Homo sapiens: one gene and its partners. The protein of the gene in region 1 interacts with the protein of each later gene in a pairwise test. Each region holds a gene or a part of one and is shown in the gene's direction. Other genes may lie near its edges.

Region 1 (4,934 bases):
CGGCCCACTGCAACCTCCGCCTCCCAGGTTCAAGCAATTCTCCTGCCTCAGCCTCCTGAGTACCTGGGATTACAGGCGTGCACTACCACGCCTGGCTAATTTTTCGTATTTTAGTAGAGACGGCTTTCACCATGTTTGCCAGGCTGGTCTCGAACTCCTGACCTCGTGATCCACCTGCCTCAGCCTCCCTAAGTGCTGGGATTACAGACCTGTTGGTCCCCAGGAGCTGAGTTCCTGGATGTTGGGAGGGCCTTTGCCACCCGAGCAGGCTGGAAGTGTCTCTGGAGCTGCGATGGCCGTGCCCTGATCTTGAAGGCTGGCCTTCTTTCAGAAGCGTATTGGCCGCCTGTAGAACCTTGGCTGTGAGAGACCTTCCGCTCAGCGTTTGGCCTGCTTTTCTCTTGGATTGTTTTCTTATTCATTCAGAAAGGTCCTCACCTCCTGGATGCTGACCCTTTTCCCATTATTTGTGTTGCAGATGCCGTTGTTCAGTTTCTGGTTTATTTCCTCACACTGATGGGCAGAATCCCGTGTTTTGATGTCCTTCAGTGTGTCTGTATTTTTTTTAAGATGTGAACCTTTAAAGAAAACCCTCCATGGCTGGGCGTGGTGGCTCACGCCTGTAATCCCAGCACTTTGGGAGGCTGAGGCAGGTGGATCACGAGGTCAGGAGTTCAAGACCAGCCTGGCCAAGATGGTGAAACGCTGTCTTTACTAAAAATACAAAAAATTAGTTGGGCATGGTGGTATGCACCTGTAATCCCAGCTACTCTGGAGCTGAGGCAGAGAATTGCTTAAACCTGGGGGGCGGAGGTTGCAGTGAGCCGAGATCGTGCCACTGCACTCTAGCCTGGGCGTCAGAGCAAGACTCCACCTCAAAAAAAAAAAAAAGAAAAAGGAAAACCCTCCTATCCGAAAGTCAGAAACACGTTTTCCTTTTATTTTTTTTTCCAAAAATGTTAAAAGTTTCTCTTAATTTAAGTCCATAATCTACCTAGAAGTATGTGTGTGGTGTGAGGTAGGGATCTTCTTTGTACCCAAATTCTAAAACTTGAGAATGGTCTTTTGTGAGTTTATTTTTATTCTTAGTGATTCCTTTCACACTGAAAGCATATTCCTCCTAGCTCTCCAGCTGTTTGTATACCTTAGGATGTTAGTGTGTGCTGCCTTGGGGTCTGTCCAATAACTTTTTCTTTTTTTTTTCCTAATAGAAATAGGCTCTTTCTCTGTCACCCAGGCTAGAGTGCAGTGATGGCGCCACTGTCCATGCAAGATCTGCCCCCAGCACACACACTTGCCCACCTCCATATTATAGACAAGACCTTCATTGTTTTAACTTGTATTCCTCTTTTTTTTTTTTTTTTTGAGATGGAATCTCGCTCTGTCACCCAGGCTGGAGTGCAGTGGCACGATCTCAGCTCACTGCAAGCTCCGCCTACCGGGTTCACGCCATTCTCCTGCCTCAGCCTCCTGAGTAGCTGGGACTACAGGTGCCCGCCACCGTGCCCGGCTAATTTTTTGTATTTTTAGTAGAGACAGGGTTTCACCGTGTTAGCCAGGATGGTCTTGATCTCCTGACCTCGTGATCCGCCCGTCTCGGCCTCCCAAAGTGCTGGGATTACAGGCTTGAGCTACTGCGCCTGGCCACTTGCATTCCTTTTGGTTATTAGCAATGTTGAATACTTTTCTGTTGGCCATTGCATTTCTTCTTTTACATACTGTCTATGCGTGTCATCTATTTGTTTTCCTTCTTTTTATGGAGACAGGGTCTTGATCTGTCACCCAGGCTGGAGTGCAGTGGTACAATCACAGCTTACTGCAGCCTTGACCTCCTGGGCTCAAGTCATCCTCATGGGTAGTTATGACTACAGGCATGCACGACCATGCCCAGCTATTTTTTTTGTTGTTGTTGAGATGGGGTCTCGTTTTTTTGCTCAGGCTAGTCTTGAACTCCTGGCTTCAAGCGCTCCCCCCACCTCTGCCTTCTAGAGTGCTGGGATTGTAGGCGAGAGCCATTGTGCCTGGCACATGTGTTTTTCAATTGCAATATTAATCCTAGAGCTTCCTTAATAGCTTCTTGGATATTAGGCACATCTTCCTTTGTTGAATGTTGTAAACTGTTTTTGCTCTCTAATTTTGTGTGGCATTTTCTGACATACAGAAGTTAGGATATACAGAAGACAGTCCTTCCTCAGGTTGGGCATGGTGGCTCATGCCTGTAATTGTAGCACTTTGGGAGGTTGAGGCAAGAGGATCACTTGAGCTCAGGAGTTCGAGACCAGCCTGGGTAACATAGCAGGACCTCCTCTCTACTAAAAAAGCAAACAAACAAAAAAACAAAATCAGCCAGGAGTGGTGGCACACGTACCTGTAGTCCCTGCTACTCAGGGGACTGAGGTGGGAGGATCATTGAGTCTGGGAGTTCAAGGCTGCAGTGAGCCATGATCACTCCACTGCACTCCAGCCTGGGCAACAAAGCAAGTCGCTGTCTCAAAAAAAAATTAAATTCAAAAAGGAAAGTCCTTCCTCAGATAAATAATCATCTGTGTGGTTTTTCATATTTAACTCTTTATCTTTTTGTTCAACTCTTTCATCCTTCCAGAATTTATTTTGCTGTTTATTGAGAGGAAATGGGAAATTAAGTTCCCCGCCCTGTGTGTGAAACAGCTGTTTCGCACCTTATAGTTTGTTCTTTCTGAGTCTTTTTCTGGGATTTTTATTTTTATTTTTTGAGACGGAGTCTCACTCTGCTGCCCAGGCTGGAGTGCAGTGGCGCAATCTCGGCTCACTGCCAGCTCCGCCTCCCTGGTTCATGCTATTCTCCTGCCTCAGCCTTCCGAGTAGCTGGGATTATAGGCGCCTGCCACCACGCCCAGCTAATTTTTTATATTTTTAGTAGAGACAGGGTTTTACCGTATTAGCCAGGATGGTCTCGATCTCCTGACCTCATGATCCGCCTGCTTCGGCCTCCCAAAGTGTTGGAATTACAGGCATGAGCCACCGTGCCTGGCTTTTTCTGAGATTTTAAAGTGGTTTTTGGAGACTTTTAATCAGAACACCAGAGGATTGTTTTAAGGCCTGGGGATTGTCCAATCATGAACAGAGCCAAGTTGGGTTCACTCTGAGCTCTGTGCTCAGCCATGGGCTACTGGGCCGTGAATGGCTGTGAATTCTGTAGTGAGCACTGTCCCTGGAGCCTGTAGACCTGGGGCCACTTATGCTGAAGTGCGTCCATGTGTGTCAGGTCAGCATGGAGCCATCGATCCTGGCAGAGGGGCTGGCAGAACGCGTGCTCCTTCACAGTGGGTGGAACAGAGAGCTTTTTGCTAAAAGCCACCTGTTTTGGGGAAACAGTTTTGTAAAGCTGTTAAAACCCAAGTTTTCATTTTGAAGAAGTGCTGTGTTGCATTTTTAATGTGCTGGTTTTTTGAAGAAGGAATTTTCTGAAGGCTGAGCATTACGTTTTTCCAGTTTGTTGTTAACTTTGCAACAGTGTCTGTGTGTGTCCTTTCTGCATCTGCTGACCTTCTCGGGGTGGGATTGGAAGTGGAGTTGTTGGGGAAGATGATTTTTGAGCCCTGGCGGCTGCCAGACAGCTGCCGAGAGTGGGGGTGCCATGAGCACGCACAGGCACACTGCCCACCTGCCAGAATTGAGTGCATGACTCTCTGTGATCAGATCTGATTTGATGGGTGCATCCGATGGAGTTGGGTGGGTTTCAGCCTGAGAGTGCACACTTAGCAGTGAGCTCTGTGTGGCCTTTGTATTGGAGACGCACCCTCTTCATTAGGAAGCTGCCGAAGAGGAAAGTCACGCCTGTGCCTGTGGGCTGAGTGGGGGCGTGGGCACTCAGGCTGGCTCTGTTTTCCCTGCAGCATTTGAAGACATGCTGGAGAACCCACTGAACAGCACCCAGTGGATGAATGATCCAGAAACGGGGCCTGTCATGCTGCAGATCTCTAGAATCTTCCAGACACTAAATCGCACGTAGGTGGCGTTGTTCCACTCGGCTATCAGGCCACAGCAGCCCCCTGGTGCGGCCCGAGACCGGGCAGAGTGGACCTCACCTGGAAACTCACCTTCAGCGCCTCAGCCCTGGACTGTTAGAGGTGCTGCAGCTGCTCCTGCTCTCTGATCTTATTGCTTATAAACTTTGGTGACGGTAGTGTGTAAGGCCGTATTTTTAGCATCTGACAGGTGTTTACAAAAAAGTGGTTGTCGCACTGGGAAGTGGAGTGATGGCCTCGTCTCCAGTGCTCCTCTGGGCTCTTGAGTTGCTGCTTGAATTGCCGTGTAGACATTTGCTTGGAGAGTCCACTTGTTATTTGACGGAGGTAGGTTTCAACCCAGAGTTAATGTCAAGCATGCTAATTTAACTAGTCACTCACAGATGACTTTTCTTTAATAAAGTCCCTTTTCCTATTTCCTGTCTTCGTCTTTTCTTGGTGCCGCACAAGAAACCCGTGCGTCCCCGAGAGGCCACATCCCCGCGGCTCCGTGCCGGCTGCTCTGACCCGGGGCGGGCACCGGGGCCACCGCAGCATGTGGGAGGCCTTGTGGCCATGTTTGGTTGGCAAAGCCTCGTGTTGTATTGGGTTTAAGGGACTGGAGCTGAGCCCGTATTCCTGGGACACAGGTCCTGAGCCCAAGCACGGCTGCCTCCGCCTACCTCTGGCCTCTTCCTCCTTTTTTTTCATTTTAAAAAACATGACCGGTGTCTTAAAATGAGAAAATGAATTTATTTTGTTTTTTGTGAACTCTGCTCATTATTGTTGCTGGAAGCAGTCAGTTCCGAGCTGTTTGTTTTGAACTTCTCTTCTGAACCAGCCCCCTCCCCTTCTGAACTCTGCTTGCATTGTAGCTGAGTAAGAATGTTTTCGGAAAATGTTTCTCTCCACACATCTAGGTCTTTTCATTGTTTTTGAGATTTAGAT
Region 2 (7,365 bases), on another chromosome or scaffold:
AGGATCACTTGAGGCCAGGAGTTTGAGACCAGCCTGAGAAACACAGCGAGACCCCATCTATACAAAAAAATTAAAAAATTAGTCGGGCGTGGTGGCACACACCTGTAGTCCCAGCTACTCAGGAGGCAGGGGTGGGAGGGTCACTTGAGCCTGGGAGGTCAAGGCTGCAGTGAACTATGATTGACTGAGTCACTGCACTCTAGCCTCGGTGACAGAGTGAGACCCCCAACCCCACCCCACCCCCCTCCAAAAAAAAACAGGGCCGGGCACAGTGGCTCACGCCTGTGATGCCAACACTTTGGAAGGCCGAAGCAGGCAGATCACCTGAGGTCAGGAGTTCAAGACTAGCTTGGCCAACGTGGTGAAACCCTGCCTCTACTGAAAATACAAAAATTAGGCGGATGTGGTGGCGGGCACCTGTAATCTCAGCTACTTGGGCTGAGACTCGAGAATCACTTGAATCCGGGAGGCAGAGTTTGCAGTGAGCCAAGATCATGCCATTGCACTCCAGCATGAGCGACAAGAGTGAAACTCCGTCTCCAAAAAAAAAAAAAAAAAAAAAAGGCCAGAGGCTTCAAAAGTAACCAGAATGATTCCAGTTCAAAAGTAACCAGAATGATTCCAGTTCAAAAGTAACCAGAATGATTCCAGACAACCTAGAAGGAGGGAGTAGCTTCCTCTCGCCCTCACTGGGAAAAATGCAGAGATATGATAGTTGTCTTTATGACTCCGAAAATGCTTAAGACAAGAAGAGCATGTAAACAAATAACTCCTATGAGAGCTTCTCAATTCACACATGATCCCATTTCATCCTTGCAAGAACACCGGGCAATAGATAATATCTTAAAATTCCCATTTTACAAATAAAAAATTCCCCGCCAGACATGGCAGTTCACATCTGCCATCCCACCACTTTAGGAGGGCAAGATGGAAGGATCACTTAGAGCCAGGAGTTCGAGACCACCCTGGGCAACAAAGCGAGACTCTGTTTCTATAATTTTTTTTTTTTTTTGAGGCGAAGTCTTGCTGTGTTACCTAGGCTGGGGTGCAGTGGCGCAACCTCGGCTCACTGCAACCTCTGCCTCCTGGGTTAAAGTGATTCTCCTGCCTCAGCCTCCTGTGTAGCTGGGACTAGAGGCATGTGTCACCACACCTGGCTATCTATTAATGTTTTTTTAAATTAAACTTCAAAATAAAGGCCTGGCATGGTGGCTTACACCTGTAATCCCAGCACTTTGGGCTGAGACAGGCAGATCACCTGAGGTGAGGAGTTTGAGACCAGCATGGCCAACATGGTGAAACCCCGTCTCTACAAAAAATATTTTAAAAATTAGCCGGGTGTGATGGTGGGTGCCTGTAGTCCCAGCTACTTGGGAGACTGAGCCAGGAGAATCGCTTGAACCTGGGAGGCAGAGGTTCCAGTGAGGCAAGATCGTGCCACTGCACTCCAGCCTGGGCGATGGAAGGAGACACCGTCTCAAAAATAAATAAATAAAGACAAAAATAAAGTCTCTCTTCTCATTGCCATCACGTCTGAGTCAGAGTCTCCAAAAAGCCTGAACAAATAAAAAATTCCAGACTCAGGCCAGGTGCGGTGGCTCATGCCTGTAATTCCAGCACTTTGGGAGGCCAAGGCGGGTGGATCACGAGGTCAGGAGATCGAGACCATCCTGGCTAACACGGCGAAACCCCATCTCTACTAAAAATACAAAAAAAAATTAGCCCTTGGTGGCGGGCGCCTGTAGTCCCAGCTACTCGGGAGGCTGAGGCAGGAGAACGGCGTGAGCCCAGGAGGCGGAGCTTGCAGTGAACCAAGATCGCGCCACCGCACTCCAGACTGGGTGGCACAGCAAGACTTCATCTCAAAAAAAAAAAAAAAAAAAGCTAGACTCAGAGAGGTTACTCGATCGCACCTGCCTTGGGTGTGACACCAACCACAGAGGGGTTCAGTGGTCCGGAAAGAACCTTGCACTCCTGCTAAGATCACCAAGCTCTCCTTCCAATACTGCTTTCTTCCAACATCTCAAAGGGCTTATGAGGACCATCCTAAGAAGAAGGCTGTAACTGACAGCGATTATCCACCTCCCCCAAGAGGACCAGCATGGAGGATAAGCTCATCAAGGCCAATGCCTTTGTTTTACCTTCCAGGTGATTCCAGGATCTCATCTCAGGTAAGTATCTATCTTAAACTCTCTCTCCTGTTCACCCTCTAATGTCTCCCATGCACTGCACCCTCTAACTCAGGGCCTGACATCTGTAAGATCCCTAGATCCTCGTCCTGTTCTGTAAGCAGCCCTTCAATTTCTACTTCACTGAAACATGACTATTCCCTCAGGACACTGTTCCCCAAAGCACTATGAGTAGTGGTCTTTTTCTGTCCCATGCAAGCCCCCATAAGCCACACTCTACTGTCTTAGAGAAGGAACACTCATTGCCGCATCAAGACTATTGTTCCTCTCATTTCCCTGTTTTGTTTTTGTTTGCTTCTTTTGAGACAGGCTGTTGTTCTGTCATCCAGGCTGGAGTGCAGCAGTGCAATCATAGCTCACAGCAGCCTCGGACTCCTGGGCTCAAACAATCCTCTGGCCGGGTTTAGTGGCTCGCTCCTGTAATTCCAGCACTTTGGTAGGCCGAGGTGGGTAGATTACCTGAGGTCAGGAGTTCAAGACCAGCCTGGCCAACATGGTGAAACCCTGTCTCTACTGAAAATACGAAAATTAGCCGGGCGTGGTGGCACATGCTTGTAATCCCAGCTACTCAGGAGGCTGAGGCAGGAGAATCGCTTGAGCCCAGAAGGTGGAGGTTGCAGTGAGCCAAGATCGTGCCACCGCACTCCAGCCTGGCTGACAGAGTGAGATTCTGTCCAAAAAAACAAAACAAACAAAACAAAACAAAACAAAAAAATCCTCCCACCTCAGTCTCCTGAGTAGCTGGGACTATAGGTGCGCACCACCATGCCCGGCTAATTTTTATTTTTGTAAAGATGGGGTCTTACTCTATTGCCCAGGATCGTCTCAAACTCCTGGCTTCAAGCCATCCTCCCACCTCCATTTCCCAAAATGTTCGGATTCCAGGTATAAGCCACTATGCCCAGCCCAGACTCATTTATCTAATTACTGACTTGATATCTCTACTTGAAGGTGTACTTGGCAATTTTTTTTTTTTTGAGACACAGTCTCACTCTGTTACCCAGGCTGAAGTGCAGTGGCATAATCACTGCACTACAACCTCCCCCTCCTCGGTTCAAGCAATTCTTGTGCCTCGGCCTCCCGAGTAGCTCGGATTACAGGCACGCACCACCATGCCCAGCTAATTTTTGTATTTTTAGTAGAGACGGGGTTTCACCATGGTGGCCAGGCTGGTCTCGAACTCCTGACCTCAAGTGATCTGCCTGCCTCGGCCTCCCAATGTGCTGGGATTACAGGCGTGAACCACCACGCCTGGCCAGCAATTATTTTAAGAGTTGGGGTCTTGCTATTTTGCTAAGGCTGGTCTTGAACTCCTGGCCTCAAGCGATCCTCCTGCCTTGGCCTTCCAAAGCGCGGGGATTATGGACATGAGCCACTGTGCCCAGCAGGAGCAGTATTTTAGTCAGTTATTCACTTGCTCACTAAAACCTAAACTTCCTGAGGCCAGGAACACATTTTACTTTTTTTTTTTTTCGAGATGGAGGGTTGCTCTGTTGCCCAGGCTGGAGTGCAGGGGCGCCATGTTGGCTCACTACAACCTCCGCCTCCCAGGTTCAAGTGATTTTCCCGCCTCAGCCTCCTGAGTAGCTGGGATTACAGGCATCCGCCACCATGCCTGGCTAATTTTTTTATTTTTGGTAGAGACGGGTTTCACCATGTTGGCCAGGCTGGTCTCCAACGTCTGACCTCAAGTGATCCACCCGCCTTGGCCTCCCAAAGTGCTGGGATTACAGGCGTGAGCCACTGTGCCCAGCCATGGGACCCACTTTACTCTTAATTTCCCCAATTCCTAGAACAGTGTGTGGCCCACAGGAAATCCGCAGAATATATTTGCAGAATGAATGAATGACTTGCCAAACGAATTAGGGCAAATCAGTAGATATCGAGTAAACATCCACAACCACCTGCCCCATACCCTTTTCAGCTCTGGGGAGATGGTGGCTCCTTGTGGGGTCGGATATGGGGGTCTCCTTTCCTTTCACCCTCCTGCCTCGTGGGGGAGTCAAGTCTCCGCAGGCGGAGAGCCCGGATGCAGGCGCGACTAGGCGGCCCTCTCTATGGTGAGCCCCCCGGTCCCTCCTCCGCAGTACCCGGAGTGCCTCTATGGTTCTTCCTGTCCTTAGTCGGGAGGGGGCGCTGTGCGCAGGCGCGAGGTGACGCCGCGGCAGGGCCGGAAGGAGTGCAGCGGCTGCCACGGAGCTCGCAGCTGCGGCTTCTGAGGAGTAAGCGGCGCGGTAGCGAAGGCCGCCGAACCTGCCTGGCTAGCCGGCGACTTGAGTGACGAGTGAGTGTCGGCTGCGGGGCGCGCTCGAGCTCCTGGGCGGGTCTGTGAGGCGACGCGGCCTCTCTGAGGGGCGCCTCTGTGGAGCTCCGGGGGTGGGGGCGGGGGCGCGGGCCGTGAGGGCCGCCGAGCTGAGGGGCGCGGGCCGAGGCCCGGGCGGGATCGGGCCAAGGGGCTGGGCTGGGCGTCTCGAGCCCGGTGCGGTGGCGAGGCTGGAGCGACAAAGGCGCTGAGCGGCCGGGTGGCCCCCTCTCGCCACTTCGCGAAGTTTCGCGGGCCGGCCCCTCGGGTCTGCTGCGCGAGGGCAACAGCCCGGGAGACCGCGCTTCCCTCCCCCGGGCCCGAGGCCGCCGCGGAGGCGGTGTCCGTGCACCCGAGCGCGGCCTGGAGGAGCGGCGGGAGGCGGGCCGTGCCTGTGAACCCCAGCCCAGGCGGGCGGCGTTTTTCCTCCTCTTCCCTCACATCTGGAGCGCGTGTTCCGCGAAAGTTGGCGACTGTCACCCGGCACTCGCGAGGGCGCCGCAAGTGCGTCAAACCCTTCTGCGGGGCGCTGGGGGCTGGCCCGGCTCGGGTGTCCGGGCGCTGGGCAGCGAGCGAGGCCGCTGTCCCCGCGTCGAGGTGGTTCTGCTCCCGGTGGAACAGGACCAGGGATCCAAGACTCTGGGCCACTTGCAACCAACCCTGGAGCGTGCGCGGCGTGCGGGTTACAGAAATTTCTGACAAATCCGACAGGGCTCTGTAAATCCCTAAGGGCCTGGGTAGCAGCTGTCCTAGGTACTTAGATCGTGCAAAGAGAACGTTCTTTTTTCTTTTACTTTTTTTTTTTTCTCCTTTTCTTTGAGACGGAGTCTTGCTCTGTTGCCCAGGCTGGAGTGCAGTGGCGCGATCCCGGCTCACTGCAAGCTCTGCCTCCCGGATTCAAGCGATTTTCCTGCCTCAGCCTCACAGGGATTGCCTCAGCTGGGATTACAGGCATTTGCCACCACGTCCAGCTAATTTTTGTATTTTTAGTAGAGACGGGATTTCTCCGTGTTGGCCAGGCTGGTCTCTAACGTCTGACCTCAGGTGATCCCTCCGCCTCGGCCTCCCAAAGTGCTACAGTCTTTTCAAAAGACGTTTCAGATATGTTCTCCGGGACCCTCGGGCCCTTCAGTAAGAAGCGCCCTGGCTGAAAACCCACACGTTCACCTACAGAAGAAGCACTGTGACGTAGAGGGTGAGCAGAGCAGAGGGCCTCACAGTGGCCCTCACATGCACCTGGCTCCAGCCTGGCCAGGTCATTTTGCCCTGGTGGGCCTGTGCCTCAAAAATGGGGTTTCTTCCCTTGTGAGGAAGACCCATGAATTAGTAACGGAATTGCCAGGAATGCTAAAAACTATCTAAATGCCATGTATTGTTTTCAAGCTGTTACTCCTGGAAGGGGCTGGGTTGGCATTGTTTTAGAGGTTAGGAGCCAAACATCAGCTCATCTATTCTCCAGCTGTTGTTTGTCCTCCATCTTCCTGCAATAGTCAGGCACAGGGTCTTATAAAAATGGGTTTGTGCTGCTGTATGTTTCGGTGGGTACCTTTGTTTACTGAATGGGATGTAGGTGGGGGACCAGAGCATATCCGCGTCCCTCGGAAACAGTGGCGTTTTAGATGTAGTATGTCCCGTCAGCTCCTCTCTGCCCCACCCACCCCAGCCCATTCATTGAGCATTTTTTTTTTTTTTTTGAGGCGGAGTCTGGCTGTATTTCCCAGGCTAAAGTGCAGTGGTGCCATCTCTGCCCACTGCACCCTCCGCCTGCCAGCTTCAAGTAATTCTCCTGCCTCAGCCTCCCGAGTAGCTGGAATTACAGGCGCGCACCACCACGCTCGGCTAACTTTTTTTTTTTTTTTTTTTTTTAAGAGACGGAGTCTAGCTGTGCTGCCCAACTCCTGGGTTTAAGTGACCCTCAGCCTCCCAAAGCACAAGAATTACAGGCTTTAGCCACCGTGCTCTGCCAGAACATTCTTTACGCGCTGAGAAGGGAGAGAAGCGGGAAGATTCTATGAAACATCTCAATTTAGTCGGCTTGCTTTAAGGAAGAAGGCTAATACATGGCCTGGCTTTGCCTTGGTTTTGTATTTCATAATTTATTGCGCCTGGGGTGTGGGGAGTAGTGGTGGATTTGAGGAAATGCCTGGAGAGTCTGGGCCAGATTTTGGACCCCCTGGCAAACCTCATTCGAGGCTTTAGATTTTTACCCTGATTAGAGCAGCAGCAGCTAATAAAAGAGAACTCCTGAAGCCCCTGTGGAGAAATCTGATAAAGAAGGGTTAGGTGTGAGTGAGGCAGATCGAAAGTTGATGAATAGGATAGTTGAGAGAGCTGGTATTTGCTGATTCTACTACCAGCTACTATTTAATGTGTTTACAAAATTCTAGGCATTGCTATATTCTAGCTCTTTAGAGACATAATTCATTCTCATACCTGATATCATTATATTTGCATTATTGTTAAAGATAATAGAACATAGTTGGGAATGGTGTGGCTCACGCCCGTAATCCCAGCACTTTGGGAGGCCGAGGCGGGCAGATCACCTAAGGTCAGGAGTTCGAGACCAGCCTGGCCAACATGGTGAAACCCCGTCTCTACTAAAAATACAAAAATTAGCCAGGTGTGATGGCGTGCGCCTGTAATCCCAGCTACTGGGGAGGCTGAGGCAGGAGAATCACATGAACTCGGGAGGCGGAGGTTGCAGTGATCCGAGATTGTGCCACTGCACTCCAGCCTGGGTGACAGAGCGAGACTCCGTCTCAAAAATAATAATAATTTTAAAAAAAGAAACTGAGGTGCTGAAAAATATCTAGTCCCAAAACTTGTAAGGGTCAGCGTGGAACTTGAACTCAGTTTGGACCCAGAGTTCATGCC
Region 3 (7,029 bases), on another chromosome or scaffold:
TTTATTTTTGTTTTTAGTACAATGTCTAAAGGAATGGTTTTAGCTTGCTAGTAACTCACTGAAAGAGTGTTAGAATTTTACGCCCTAGGGAAACTCTTTAAATAGATTTAATGTAGTTAGTCAAAATCCTCCAAATTTTTGTACACAATGTGTCTTTATTTAAAGGGTGAAAATAGCACACCAGTTTTAATAATGGCTTAACCAGCATTTTATTATTCAACTCAAGTCACTCTAAATGGTATCAAAAAGGCCTTGAATATGGCCTAATAGTGCCATTCATTATTTGGTTCAACTGATACCAGTGGATACACCATGCTAAGGATATAGAGCAGAATAATTTACAGTTCCTACCCTAGAGGAGAGTACATTTTGGAAATTAGAGGAGAGTACACTTTTGGTCTTTGGGGAAAAGAAAAACAAAACAAATAAGAAAAATTTCTTCTTGAGTCATCCCGGGTCTTCTTTATTGTGCCCTTGAGTTAAGTTTCTTGATTAATCAGTACTCATTTCCTAGCAGGTTTTCACGGACCCTAGCAACCTTCAGCGGCACATTCGCTCTCAGCATGTCGGTGCCCGGGCCCATGCATGCCCGGAGTGTGGCAAAACGTTTGCCACTTCGTCGGGCCTCAAACAACACAAGCACATCCACAGCAGTGTGAAGCCCTTTATCTGTAAGTTTTCAACACTCCAGCCCTCCTTCCCACATCTGTCTCTTCCCCAAAAGGCACTGTGACCAGGAGAGTGGCTGCACATGGCCTTTAGAGGGTCACCGTGTTAGCTATTTATGGTCCAATCCAGTAGGGCTATTTATGATTACAAGTAAATCTTTTATAATCAGATCCATGGTATTTTGTCCTTGATTCCTGGGGTGTTTTCTTTCAGAAGAAATCAATAACAGGTAGAGAAAAGAAAATTCATTAGATAATCAAAGGGAAACCTCCACAGGTTGTAGGATTTAATCAGGACAATCAGATTTGTCTCATATTGTAAATGTTCATGGCTTTGTAAAGCAGCAAATAGCAGCCATCACTAAACAAGATGAAGTGATTAAAAACCTGTTCTGGATCAGAAAGAGCTGGAAGAAGCCCACCTGGGAAGTAGGCTTACGGCTCTGTGTGCATGTATGTGAGTATATGTGTGTGGAGAGAGCGAGGGGGATGAAATGCTTTTTAATCTACCCATTGTTGCCGATCACAGGCTGTCGGATCTGTAGTTCTCTGTTACTTGAAGAAAAGCAGAACATTTTCACTTAGATGCTGGACATGCTGTTTCTCTTACCCACTGCACCAAAGCAAGTTTATAGGCAGTGTGCTTTTAGGGGACATCTGATCTGACCACCTACTTAGAACATCCCTGTACAGAGCACTGTAGTAACATCCTTCAAATACAATAAAACTCAGCTCTCATTTGCTTTTTCTTCTCTCCGCCCACTCCTATTCTCTGTATTGTGCTCAAACATTTTATAAGTAAAATCAGTTGTTCTTAGTCTACCTGGGCAAAAAATCTGGGCTTCTTTTAATCCATTGCTTGGCGGGGCATATAAATACAATGACTTATTGAGTTGTGCTACAAACGTCAAGACTGATTTTGGACCCAGATACACATAGAATTGGTTGAAGCATACTCAGCACTTGGCAAGACCTCTGACTTTGGTTTGTAGTAGGTATATGAGACACTACTACAGGACCTGATGGAAAAAACTATTTTTCAGTGCCAACATGGAGATGCCAGAGACTAACTCTCCTTTGCCTCGACACAGCTTTCTTTTGTGTGTCCAAGCACCAAAATAGCTTTTCTTTCCTTTTCCAGCTTACACTAGAGTCCTGTTTTGCTCATATGCTCTTCTGTTCCCCGGGTGAAGAGGACTAGCAGATTAAAAAAGGGTGCTCTCATCTCCCTTGGGGAAGCTCTATTGAAGGTCACGGGAAATAAAGCATTCAATAGAAATTTTAGACTTCTTGTCGCAAAAAGGCATTCCTGACTCTTAAGTCTTAATGCCCTGAAAATGTACTTGGAAGTACTACAGGCATACGATATTAAATAGTTCATTTATTTCTGATTCCTCAGAAATAAATTTTGGTAAGTTTTATTATGTTTTGATGTGAGAAAAAACTAGAATAAACCACAAGGAATTCTGATCACTCATTTAATGCTTTCTCTATTATTTAAAATAAAAGTCAGAAAATATAGACTTCTGCTATCGAAGATTCTGGGATCTGGAATTTTAATTGTGTTGAAGACAAGTGTTTCACTTTAAAGTGCCATAGGGTGTCCCTTTCCAATCAGATTGCATAAAGTATTTCCCTTGAATGTATTTTCAGTAATTATTGGTAAATTTAAATAGCAGATGGCATTCTTCAAATTTAAAATCTGCCAGAGAACCATGGAGTAATTATGAATAATAGCCATGTAATTTCAGAACAAAAGAGATTAAAGATCAGGAAATGGTGTGGAGACTTGAGTGGAGGAGGTTCACCTAGGGCTGATATCTGTTTCTCACCAGAAGGCCACACACCACGATTTACCCCCACTGGTGTGTTTATGGCAACTGTCTCTTATTACAGTGTGCTGCCACGCTTGAGCCCAAAGTCACCAGTGCTAAGGTAATTACTCACTGCCTTTACAGAAACCTACAGCTTTCCCAAATAGAAACCACATGCTCTAATAGGCTGAATATATTCAAAATGCCTCTTAATTTGTTTAATAAGTAGAAAAATGCAATGTTAACTGCTGGCTAATTCCTTATTACTGAGAAAATTACAGTAGAGTATAAACTTCAACATCAATTGAACCAGTTTACCTGGAGGCCTGGTAGTTTGTGGTATGCCAGGCCAGGCCTTCAAGTGCCGAAAACAAAGCCTCTGCCTAAGAAAACATCCCAGATTCGATGTTCTTGAGCCCAGACACAGACAGCACTCAGCCATGTAACAACGGGTGCCACCAGAAAAGTCAGCTGAACTTCTGTTACTCCAATAGAGAGAAGCTCTTGATTTTTTTTTTTTAAGCCATCTGATTGTAAGAAAGAAGTGTAGAGAGCAACATTTCCTTGCCAAAAAATGACAAGTCTTTGAAAAACTTATGTCTTGGTTGAATACTCATCAAGACATTTTTTCAATGCCTTTTAAGAGGTGTTGCTTTCTTACTTTTTATAATTCCAATAATAAAATATTGTTATTGCTTGTAGCTATAAATTATTCTAATATATCTAGTAAACATCTGATGTTTCTACCTTCTCCATTATTTGATTTTAATTAGTGTATCAAACAGTTTAAATTAGATGTATATTTATGGTGTATGGTTAAATTGTATATACTTTTAAAGCTGACTCTGGTCGATATATTCTGGTAAAATAATTTGAAAAGATATCACCCACATCTTCTATTCCCATTAAAATGCATGTTACAGCCTCTGTAACGTTGTGATTCATCCCACAATTGAAGGCACCTTTAATATTACCAAACACTTTGATATATGCAACAATACACTTTAACCTTTAGTAGTAAAAGAAAGAGATATACCCTTACTTGGTACTTCCTGTTTGGATGTATGTGGGATAATCCAAGCTCTGGGTGAGTTTTGCTTGACTGAAAGTCTATAAAATCTCCTTGACATGAGTTTTTTTTTTTAATTATTATTGCTTTGACTTAGAAGCACAATCATTCTGCACTTAAAGGCAGCCATCATATGAAAGCAATAACTGTTGCATTTTGTCTTCAATTTAATTTCTTAAAATAAATTTGCTTCAACAATTACCAACAAGGTACATCTTGTTTCTGCATGTATTGAACATGCACAGAAGTGTTAAAATAAGCTCACACATAACGTGGCTCAATCCCGTAAAGTAAAATAAAAAATGTGATGCTCAGGGTACTGATACTGTAATACTGCTGGACAGTGAAGTGAGTGATTCTTACCTGGTAAAGGAGTTATTAAGGGTTACAAAGTTTGGTCTTAAAATATACTTGGCTATAGTGGCACATGTGTGAGGAGGAAGATTCTACTTTATTGACAAATTCTTAGCAAAGAGGCATATTTCACAGCTGCATCCAATGCTGTGCCCTTCTTTCTGGATTAGAGCTTTCACAGTGCTCTCCCCTACTGAGCATAGTTGGCTATAACACACAGAAGTCAAGCCTGAGATAACCAGTGTAGATATGACAACAAGTGGACATGTTTCCCAAGGACGGGGTTTTCATAAATGCAGGAAGGTTAGCACAACCACTGGTGTGAGGGGAAGTCAGAGGACGTGATCATAGTTCATGGGAACCAGCAATGCAGGATGGGCTACATTCAATTTAGTTTCCTTTGCAGGCTTAAAATAGAGCCATTGTAAATTATGTCAGTCTTTCTCAAATCATGAAAATGATTGTTAAAAAAAGTCTCAGAATACACAATGTGCATTGTTGTGTGGCTTTGATGTGTGAATGATGAGAGCATATGATATAATACCAATTAAATAATAGCAGGGCAGTCACAGGCTTTTTCCCCAAGGGGAGAGGCAATAAAGGTGAAGTTTCTGGTTGAGGATATTTTATTTTGTTTTGGTGCCTACAAAATAGAATTTTTAAGTACTCTAAAATTTGAAAGGGGTTCTTGTTGTGTTTTGTACGTAATGCATTTTAAGACTAATTTTCAACATTATATTAGTATAATAATTGTGTGGAGAATCAATGCATGATGGAATTTAACTTTTCATAAATATTTAAATACACAAATATTATGCAAAATATTGCACAAGGGGGTGACAAGATATATATATCTATATATATGAAATATTTGTGCTGCCTCAAGACATTTGTCAGGTTGGTTGCCTTGCTTTGGAATCTAGTGAAATGGGGTTTTCTGTGTTTGGAGCACCCAGATTGGTGCCTCCAATGTCTTTTACTGGCTTCCTAATTGAAATTTTGAGTAAACCAATTGTGATATTTGCTAAATTCAGAAGCAATTGACATAAAGCCTGAGATTCTTTTTTGTTGTTTGCACACAGGTGAGGTCTGCCATAAATCCTATACTCAGTTTTCAAACCTTTGCCGTCATAAGCGCATGCATGCTGATTGCAGAACCCAAATCAAGTGCAAAGACTGTGGACAAATGTTCAGCACTACGTCTTCCTTAAATAAACACAGGAGGTTTTGTGAGGGCAAGAACCATTTTGCGGCAGGTGGATTTTTTGGCCAAGGCATTTCACTTCCTGGAACCCCAGCTATGGATAAAACGTCCATGGTTAATATGAGTCATGCCAACCCGGGCCTTGCTGACTATTTTGGCGCCAATAGGCATCCTGCTGGTCTTACCTTTCCAACAGCTCCTGGATTTTCTTTTAGCTTCCCTGGTCTGTTTCCTTCCGGCTTGTACCACAGGCCTCCTTTGATACCTGCTAGTTCTCCTGTTAAAGGACTATCAAGTACTGAACAGACAAACAAAAGTCAAAGTCCCCTCATGACACATCCTCAGATACTGCCAGCTACACAGGATATTTTGAAGGCACTATCTAAACACCCATCTGTAGGGGACAATAAGCCAGTGGAGCTCCAGCCCGAGAGGTCCTCTGAAGAGAGGCCCTTTGAGAAAATCAGTGACCAGTCAGAGAGTAGTGACCTTGATGATGTCAGTACACCAAGTGGCAGTGACCTGGAAACAACCTCGGGCTCTGATCTGGAAAGTGACATTGAAAGTGATAAAGAGAAATTTAAAGAAAATGGTAAAATGTTCAAAGACAAAGTAAGCCCTCTTCAGAATCTGGCTTCAATAAATAATAAGAAAGAATACAGCAATCATTCCATTTTCTCACCATCTTTAGAGGAGCAGACTGCGGTGTCAGGAGCTGTGAATGATTCTATAAAGGCTATTGCTTCTATTGCTGAAAAATACTTTGGTTCAACAGGACTGGTGGGGCTGCAAGACAAAAAAGTTGGAGCTTTACCTTACCCTTCCATGTTTCCCCTCCCATTTTTTCCAGCATTCTCTCAATCAATGTACCCATTTCCTGATAGAGACTTGAGATCGTTACCTTTGAAAATGGAACCCCAATCACCAGGTGAAGTAAAGAAACTGCAGAAGGGCAGCTCTGAGTCCCCCTTTGATCTCACCACTAAGCGAAAGGATGAGAAGCCCTTGACTCCAGTCCCCTCCAAGCCTCCAGTGACACCTGCCACAAGCCAAGACCAGCCCCTGGATCTAAGTATGGGCAGTAGGAGTAGAGCCAGTGGGACAAAGCTGACTGAGCCTCGAAAAAACCACGTGTTTGGGGGAAAAAAAGGAAGCAACGTCGAATCAAGACCTGCTTCAGATGGTTCCTTGCAGCATGCAAGACCCACTCCTTTCTTTATGGACCCTATTTACAGGTAAGCGTGTATGGAAGATGACGAAATATGAGCAGATGTATGAAAGGCGGTATTTCCACTGTAAAGTGATGGCTTTTTAACACATCATTTTTACTATTATTATAAAACAGAGTGAAGTTGTTTGATCTAGTGAACTCATTTTTTATTCTGAAAGTTGGATCATTCTGTTTGAACTTATTTTTGGATGTTTCTGAAGTTGGGGGTTTGGAATAGGCCTACAGAATTTTTTTCCCTTGACAATAAATTTATTTTTAAACACTTTTTTTGGAGTGGAAAATATGGGAAAGTCATATTTAAAGTAAATTGTCAAGTGGCGGAAGAATGAGGATCCTGAAGGATTAATGCAAATATGCGTGGGTACTTAAATGGGTCAGGTTCTTTGGAATGGGGGGGATATCTAACAGCAAGAGTCCACTCTTTTTTGACCTACCAACACATCCTTAATAAGGGCTGGTCATATTGTTTCTAAATAAATCTCTCAGGAGCCCCCAAGTAAATGAAATATTAATCACAGAATATGTTTTGTATATAATATGAGTAGTTGGCTTAAAAAATGTCTCTGTTTAATAGCTTCATTATCCGGTTTCCTTTGATGTAGCAAAAAAATCTTGGGGTGAAACATACAAGTTTAATAAAAGGCCTTTTTGGCAATATTCAGTAATATTCACCTGACCAAAGTGATTTA

Evidence for each region. The genes of interacting proteins can lie anywhere in the genome.
Region 2: the proteins of UBAC1 (region 1) and RNF216 interact in binary tests that used the Homo sapiens proteins (3 or more experiments, as listed by UniProt).
Region 3: the proteins of UBAC1 (region 1) and MECOM interact in a two-hybrid assay, tested with the Homo sapiens proteins (one study listed by BioGRID).

What each region holds. Positions count from the first base shown.
Region 1 is NC_000009.12:135,932,457-135,937,390, reverse strand, and holds the end of UBAC1 (ubiquitin-associated domain-containing protein 1), read left to right. Parts: intron 1-3,875; coding exon 3,876-3,991; 3' UTR 3,992-4,422; downstream 4,423-4,934.
Region 2 is NC_000007.14:5,778,649-5,786,013, reverse strand, and holds the start of RNF216 (E3 ubiquitin-protein ligase RNF216), read left to right. Parts: upstream 1-4,350; 5' UTR 4,351-4,473; intron 4,474-5,138; exon of another isoform or gene 5,139-6,029; intron 6,030-7,350; exon of another isoform or gene 7,351-7,365.
Region 3 is NC_000003.12:169,114,698-169,121,726, reverse strand, and holds part of MECOM (histone-lysine N-methyltransferase MECOM), read left to right. Parts: intron 1-514; coding exon of another isoform or gene 515-517; coding exon 518-671; intron 672-4,987; coding exon 4,988-6,344; intron 6,345-7,029.